2 linked regions of the Homo sapiens genome follow. The protein of the gene in region 2 purifies or fractionates together with the protein of the main gene of each other region. This does not show direct contact. Each region holds a gene or a part of one and is shown on either strand. Other genes may lie near its edges. The genes, in order: RRP12 and RRP36.

Evidence for each region.
Region 1: the proteins of RRP36 (region 2) and RRP12 fractionate together in Homo sapiens (co-fractionation; one large-scale study listed by BioGRID). This does not show direct contact.

What each region holds. Positions count from the first base shown.
Region 1 is NC_000010.11:97,370,173-97,373,987, forward strand, and holds part of RRP12 (RRP12-like protein), read right to left. Parts: intron 3,723-3,815; coding exon 3,658-3,722; intron 3,566-3,657; coding exon 3,403-3,565; intron 3,029-3,402; coding exon 2,874-3,028; intron 2,632-2,873; coding exon 2,564-2,631; intron 1,995-2,563; coding exon 1,901-1,994; intron 910-1,900; coding exon 751-909; intron 625-750; coding exon 544-624; intron 389-543; coding exon 283-388; intron 103-282; coding exon 1-102.
Region 2 is NC_000006.12:43,027,046-43,030,099, forward strand, and holds the end of RRP36 (ribosomal RNA processing protein 36 homolog), read left to right. Parts: intron 1-84; exon of another isoform or gene 85-132; coding exon 133-207; intron 208-314; coding exon 315-432; intron 433-2,046; coding exon 2,047-2,183; 3' UTR 2,184-2,554; downstream 2,555-3,054. UniProt on the Homo sapiens protein: Involved in the early processing steps of the pre-rRNA in the maturation pathway leading to the 18S rRNA.

The sequences.
Region 1 (3,815 bases), on a different chromosome or scaffold from region 2:
ACTCGAAAAGGAGGTGGGTCAGGGCCAGGATGCTGCAGCTGACCATGGTCACCGCGCCCACCAGGCCAGGGTAGATCAGGACGAGGTAGCACTGCAGGGCCTCTGGGGACAGAGACCAACGTGGGTCAAGCAGGAAGGACCCACCAGGTAGGGGGGCTGAGGGCCAGAGAGGAGCAGCCTGCCCAGGGCCAGGGCACAGAGCTCTCCCCACCTTTTTTGAGGGGTGCTTCCCCCCACCCAGTCTATGAGCAGAGTGTCCACCCCCAGCCCCCTGGGCCTCACCTTCCTGGTTCGAGCCAAACCTTAGGAAAGCATGGCCCATCTCCACGAGCAGTGCAAAAGCGTTCTTCCGTGCGCCCACCGACACCTCCTTGGTGCACAGGATCACCTGGCCAAGACAACTCCATCAGCATCTGCTCCCTGAGCCATCTGCCCGGGAAGCGAATCGAGTCCTCCCACTCCCATCACTGCCCTCCCTGGATCCTGAGGCCCTTAAGAGCCACATTCCAGGGACCCCCCTCTAAAACACACCCGCACACTCACCTCTGGGATGAGGGCAGTGATGAACTCCTTGTGTTCAGCTGAGAGCTTCCTCACGATGTGTAGGAGGCACTTCAAACGGGGCTGTGGGCAAAGGGCTACCAGTCAGGACCCCTCAATGCTACCTCCACCCAACAAGCCTCAACAGTGGCTCCTTTCCTGGTGTTGCCCAGGCTCCCTCGGCAGAGCGGGTGGCCCTAGAGCCCTCACCCTCTTGGCGGGTGAGGAGGTGCTCCGCAGCGAGTCCAGCAGTGTCTTCTTCAGGTCCTCCAGGTGGCTCTGCACGAAGAGGGCCCCGGGGCCCTGAGGACTGGCACACACCTCCTCCAGCACTCGGTAGGCCTTCTTCTGCACCCCGTGGGCCTTGCTCTGGCAGACAGGAACCGGTGAGGGAGGCCTGGGGCTCACTCCCTGTCCAATGCTATCCACGGAGCATCCCCCAGCACTGGAGGGATTCTGAGCAGGGGTCCGTGGGGGCTCATGTGGCTTGACAGAGGACCAGTGGAATGTGGACAGCGAGTGGCTAACTCCTGGGCGAGGCACAGGGGTTGGGGGTGTGTGCCGTGGGGCCCACCAATCCACTCCACTCACCCAGCTCTGGACAGTGCTCACTCCAGTGGCCTGAGCTCATGGTGCCTGGCACGCGCCAAGGCCTGCACATCTGCTGCTCTTTCTAGCCGGAGCACTCTTCTCTCTCCTTCCAAGACTGACAACTCCTTGCTCCTCCAAACCAGCTCTCTGTCACACTCCCCCAACCCCCAACGCCGGACACCTTTCCTGAGGTGACGTGGCCTGGCCCTGGATTTCCATGTCCACCTGCAGTGCTGCCCCAGAGCACTTCTCACACTGTTAGGTAACTGCTACTAAACTGTGGCAATGGGGGCAGCTTTCAGGGGGTCACTGCTGGGCTGAGATCTGCAGGGTTGCTGGCCACAGCAGAGGGCATTTCAAGCTGAGGACCCAAACCCTGCAAAGGCACAGACAGGGCCTGTTATATCAGGGAGGCTTAAGGCAGCTGAAGGAGGCTGCAGCAGAAGTAGAGAGTGGACTGGGTGGGATAAAGCTCAGGCCGGTCTGGGATGGGCCTGGGGAGTGAGCCAGGCAAAGGAGCATGGCCTTGGTTCTACAAGAGTCACTCAGCACGCAAGGCCTAAGCACAGCTGTGCATTTCAGTCCCTTTGGGACCTGCAAGACAGATGGGCTACACAGGACACAAAGAGAAGCCACTGCAGGAGAAAGCAGACAGGGACCTGATCTCGGGAAGCAGCAAGGGACAAAGACATGAAGACAGGCCCCACCTTCCCACAGCCCATCTGCCCCCAAGCGTGGCTGTGTGGCGCTCCTGGCCCCCGAGGCTCACCTCTAGGTAGGGCCGGATGGTGGAGTATAGCTTACTGATGGCAGCTTCGTCAGCACACGGAGCCAAGGCCACGACCAGGTCCAGGACAGACAATCTGCTCGGGGCAGGAGGACAAGGAGAGGGATGGGGAGCTGGAGAAGGGCGCAGACTACCAGTGTTCTTACGTCTACTGGGTATGGGGAGGTGGGAGAAGTCAGGGTGAGGACAAGGGGCTTGAAGGAGCTCATGAACAATAATAATAGCTAGTACCTAACTGAGCATTCATGATGTACCAGTCACCGTTCCTGGTGTTTTACACCTGCTAACTCCTTCAATCCTCATAGCAACCTTGTTGCAAGAACTATTATCGTGCCCATTTTACAGATGAGGCCTTAGAGGCAGAATGGATAAGTAATTTGTCCAAGGTCACACAGCCCATGAGTGACGGGGCTGGGATCAGAACCTGGGCAGTGTATCTCCTGGGTCCTTGTTCCTCCCTACCAGACTAAATGGCCTCTCCAGGAAGAAGGAACTAGTCAGCACAGCCTCTCAGCACAGCCTGGAGAGTTAATACTTCAAGGCTTCCTTAAATAATGCAAGAGGGAACCCACAGTGCTTCTGCCAGATGCACCCTCCAGCTCCCTGGGCTGCTCCAGCTCAAGTGGGAGGCCCTGAGCATGTTACCTGGTAAAGTCAGAGCTGGCAGGGTCGAGCACCTTCTCACTGGCTTTTTCCAGGAGACTGTTCACCAACTTGTGGCCCCGAGGGAATGAGGAGAAGAGAGTCATTGGGGAGGAGCGAAAGAAAGCAGCAATGGCAGCAGTCCCAGAGCGGCCTCCCCATCAGCCCCCAGCCCTGCCCAAGCCATGACTGCTGGTATGTGCTCCAAAACACAGAGACCCACGTGAGCCCTGGTGGGTAGGGTCTCGGCCTCTCTGACCCTGCCCACCTGAGAGCTCCCCTCCTCCCTCCTTCCCTCCCTTCCGTGGCTCACCTGAGTGTCAGTGATGGTGAGGTAAGTTCTGATGGTTTCCAGCACAGCCCGGCGAGGGGCTGGAGTGTCCCCGGCTGCCACGGGCTGCCCATACAGGTTGAAGAGGATCGGCAGAAAGTTCTTGGCAAAGCGACTCACTTCAGCACGGTCAGCCTCTGGTAAAAGGATCAAAGTTTGCACTAAAGGCACAGGAGCTGACTGTGCCTCAGTGGCTGCTGGGGCTGTGGCCCAGAGGCCCTCTCTTGGGGGAGCTGGCAGGACTTGGAATCCATGGGTTTGGGGCTCTCTGTGGCAGAAGCTGAGCCAGGGCATGGAGAGCCTGGTGCCCCAGTGGCCCATGGTCCTCGATGGCTCCAACCCCAGGGAGCCAGCAAAGTTATCCCCTGGGGTCTGCAGCAGAAGCAGCAAAGGATGAGCTCCAGAGGTGAGTTTCTGTGGCTCTGCCTGGCAAGGAGTGTAGCAAGCCAGGGGATGGGGCCAGGGACCTGTGTCATCCTCCCCAGCCCCCACTCCCACAGCCCACACGTACCTGCCTGGCAGCCCTTGGTGATGAGGGTGCGCAGGGCCTGGCACACGGTGACCCTCAGGTCTGGACGCTCGCTGATGGCCATGCCCAGCGTCCGTGCCAGCCCTTTGAAGGAGATGGCCACATCTGTAGGCCTTGTGCAGAACCCAGGCAGGAGTGTCCACATCTGGAGAAGGAGGGGACAATAAAGGAAGGTGACACGCAGCCACCTGTGCCCCTGTGTGCTTCTCCCCACGCCCTCCCCCAGCTGACCCTTACCTGCCACTGGAGTGTGTCGTAGATCTTAGATTCCACTGTGCTGCCTGCCTGAGCCAGGTCCATGGCTGCAGTGTGACAGAGGGACAGAGTGTGAGCCCAGCACCCTCCTGGCCAACAGCCTTATTTACCAAACCAAACCAAAAGCCCAATGATGAGGA
Region 2 (3,054 bases):
AGAGCAAGACTGCATCTCAAAAAAAAATGTGTGTGTGTGTATGTGTGTGAACTTCTTAGGATAATGCTTTACATAAAATTTCAGCTAACATTTGCAGAATGCTAACCATGATACTCATTTTCCAATGTGGAGCTTGTGAAAAAACAGTTGAAGAAGCACCTTTCAGGAGAGGAGCATGAGAAACTGCAGCAACTGCTTCAGCGAATGGTGAGTGGGTAATAATTGTGGTGGGTAATGAAAGCAATTAAAGGTGGGAGATATTCACAGATCTGAACAGATCCCTCCCGTTCACCCATCTCATCTTTGCTCCTCAGGAGCAGCAAGAAATGGCACAGCAGGAACGAAAGCAACAGCAGGAGCTGCACCTGGCCCTGAAGCAAGAACGTCGGGCTCAGGCCCAGCAGGGCCATCGGCCATACTTCCTGAAAAAATGTGAGTTGGGCACAACTGTTGCTAACAGGGACAGGGGTGCAGGGGCCATGGTGGTAGAGTCTTGTGTTGGGGTGTCCCTGATCCCCTTTAAGGAAGGCATGAAGGCTGGATCCCATGGTAACTTGGAGGAAAGTAGAAATAGTAGGGAGTTGTTTGTAACCAGTCTTGTATCCCTAATTAGATCATGGCAGGCATTGTCACCTTTATTTCTTGGTCTACACTCCCCACTTCCCAACCCCCCCCCCCCAACACACACACAGTGAGTTTTATCTCTTGGTCTACACTACACACACACACACACACACACACACACACACACACAAACACAGAGTCAGTTTTATCTCTTGGTCTACACACACACACACACACAATCAGTTTTATCTCTTGGTCTATACTACACACACACACAGAGTTTTATCTCTTGGTCTACACACACACACACACAATCAGTTTTGTTTCTTGGTCTACACTGCACACACACACATGCACACACGCTGGGCCAGGCACATAGGTGTTCATAGTTGGTTGAATTGAGTAGTACTGAGATCATATAAAAAGTCATCAGTTGGGCTGGGCACGGTGGCTCACGCCTATAATCCCAGCACTATGGGAGGCCAGTGTGGGGGGGTCACGAGGTCAGGAGTTCGAGACCAGCCTGGGGGCCAACATGGTGAAACCCTGTCTCTACTAAAGATATAAAAAAATTAGCCGGGCCTGGTGGCGTGCACCTGTAATCCAGCTACTCAGGAGGCTGAGGCAGGAGGATCACTTGAGCCCGGGAGGTGGAGGTTGCAGAAAGCCTAGATTGCACTGTTGTACTCCAGCCTGGGCAACAGCGTGAGACTCCATCTCACAGGAAAAACAAACAAACAAAAAAAAGTCACCAGTTGGGCCGGGCGCAGTGCCTCACACCTGTAATCCCAGCACTTTGGGAGGCCAAGGAGGGCAGATCACGAGGTCAGGAGTTCAAGACCAGCCTGGCAAACATGGTGAAACCCCGTCTCTACTAAAAATACAAAAATTAGCTGGGTGTGGTGCTGTGCATCTGTAATCCCAGCTACTCAGAAGGCTGAGGCAGGAGAATCGCTTGAATCTGGGAGGCGGAGGTTGCAGTGAGCTGAAATCGTGCCACAGCACTTCAGCCTGGGTGACAGAGTGAGACTCCATCTCAAAAAAAAAAAGTCACCCGTTGGCCAGGCGCAGTGGCTCACGCCTGTAATCCCAGCACTTTGGGAGGCTGAGGAGAGCGGATCACCTGAGGTCAGGAGTTCGAGACCAGCCTGGCCAACATGGCGTAACCCTGTTTCTACTAAAAATACAAAAAAATTAGCCATATGTGGTGGTGCGCGCCTGTAATCCCAGCTACTCCGGAGGCTGAGGCAGGAGAATCACTTGAATCTAGAAGACGGAGGTTGCAGTGAGCCGAGATCGCGTCACTGCACTCCAGCCTGGGTAACAGAGCAGGACTCCGTCTCAGAAAAAAGATAGAGGGGCACCAGTGAGCTTTAAAGAACTCATGTATCCAGCATAATGGCTTGGAGTTACTGACCTGGTTTGGGAAAGAATAGGGGCTTCCTTCTTTGTTCACCAACTTTCATTCTCCCTGTCATTTAGCTGAGCAGCGCCAGTTGGCACTAGCTGAGAAGTTCAAGGAGCTGAAACGCAGCAAGAAATTGGAGAACTTCTTGAGTCGAAAGAGGCGACGAAATGCAGGCAAGGACAGGAGACATCTCCCTTTGAGCAAAGAGTAATAAGGAACTATCCTCTGCTCTGCCACTGCCCCAGGGAGACATGGATCTGTGAGGACAGATTTGGCCACGGCTGGTTTCCGTTCAAGGGCAAGGATCACAGCTGCCCTTGAATCTCATTGCCTCAGAGAAGACTAGAGGGCTCTTGGACTATCCCTAGGGCTACACAAGAATAGTTCAGCCTTCTGCCATGCCACACAGCCTCAGCTTGAATCTGGTTCATTGCGTCCTCGTGTTCTTCTCTCATCCTTGCCTTAAACCAGGGATTCTGATACCGAAGAAGAGGGGCCAATGAAAACCATGGAGTCTGTTCGTGACTCCCAGGGCTGGGACATTATGTAGGAGCCACTTCATAAACATTCTCTTTACTCATCTTTTTATTCTGTTTTTTGTGGCCTTCTTTTTGTGTTTCCCCCCCGAAACAGAGTCTCGCTCTGTCACCCAGGCTAGAGTACAGTGGTGCAATCTCGCCTCACTGCAACCTCCACCTCCCAGGTTCAAGTGATTCTTGTGCCTCAGCCTCCCGAGTAGCTGACATCCGCCACCAAGCCCAGCTAATTTCTTTCGTATTTTTAGTAGAGATAGAGTTTTGCCATGTTGGCTAGTTTGATCTTAAACTCTTGGCCTCAAGTGATCTGCCTGCCTCAGACTCCCAAAGTGCTGGGATTACAGGCGTTGAGCCACCGTTCCGGCCTTAAGGCCTCTGCTTTTATGTGGGATTTGTGGGTAGCCTAGAACTACTTTTTAGTGGGCCACATATTGGGATAGGCAATAAAGCCTAAGGCATCTACAACTGGGAAGTCAGATCAGAAACCCCTCCCACTTAAATCTGGGCCCCTCAAGGATGACAAGATCATTTAGTGGGTGAACCAAT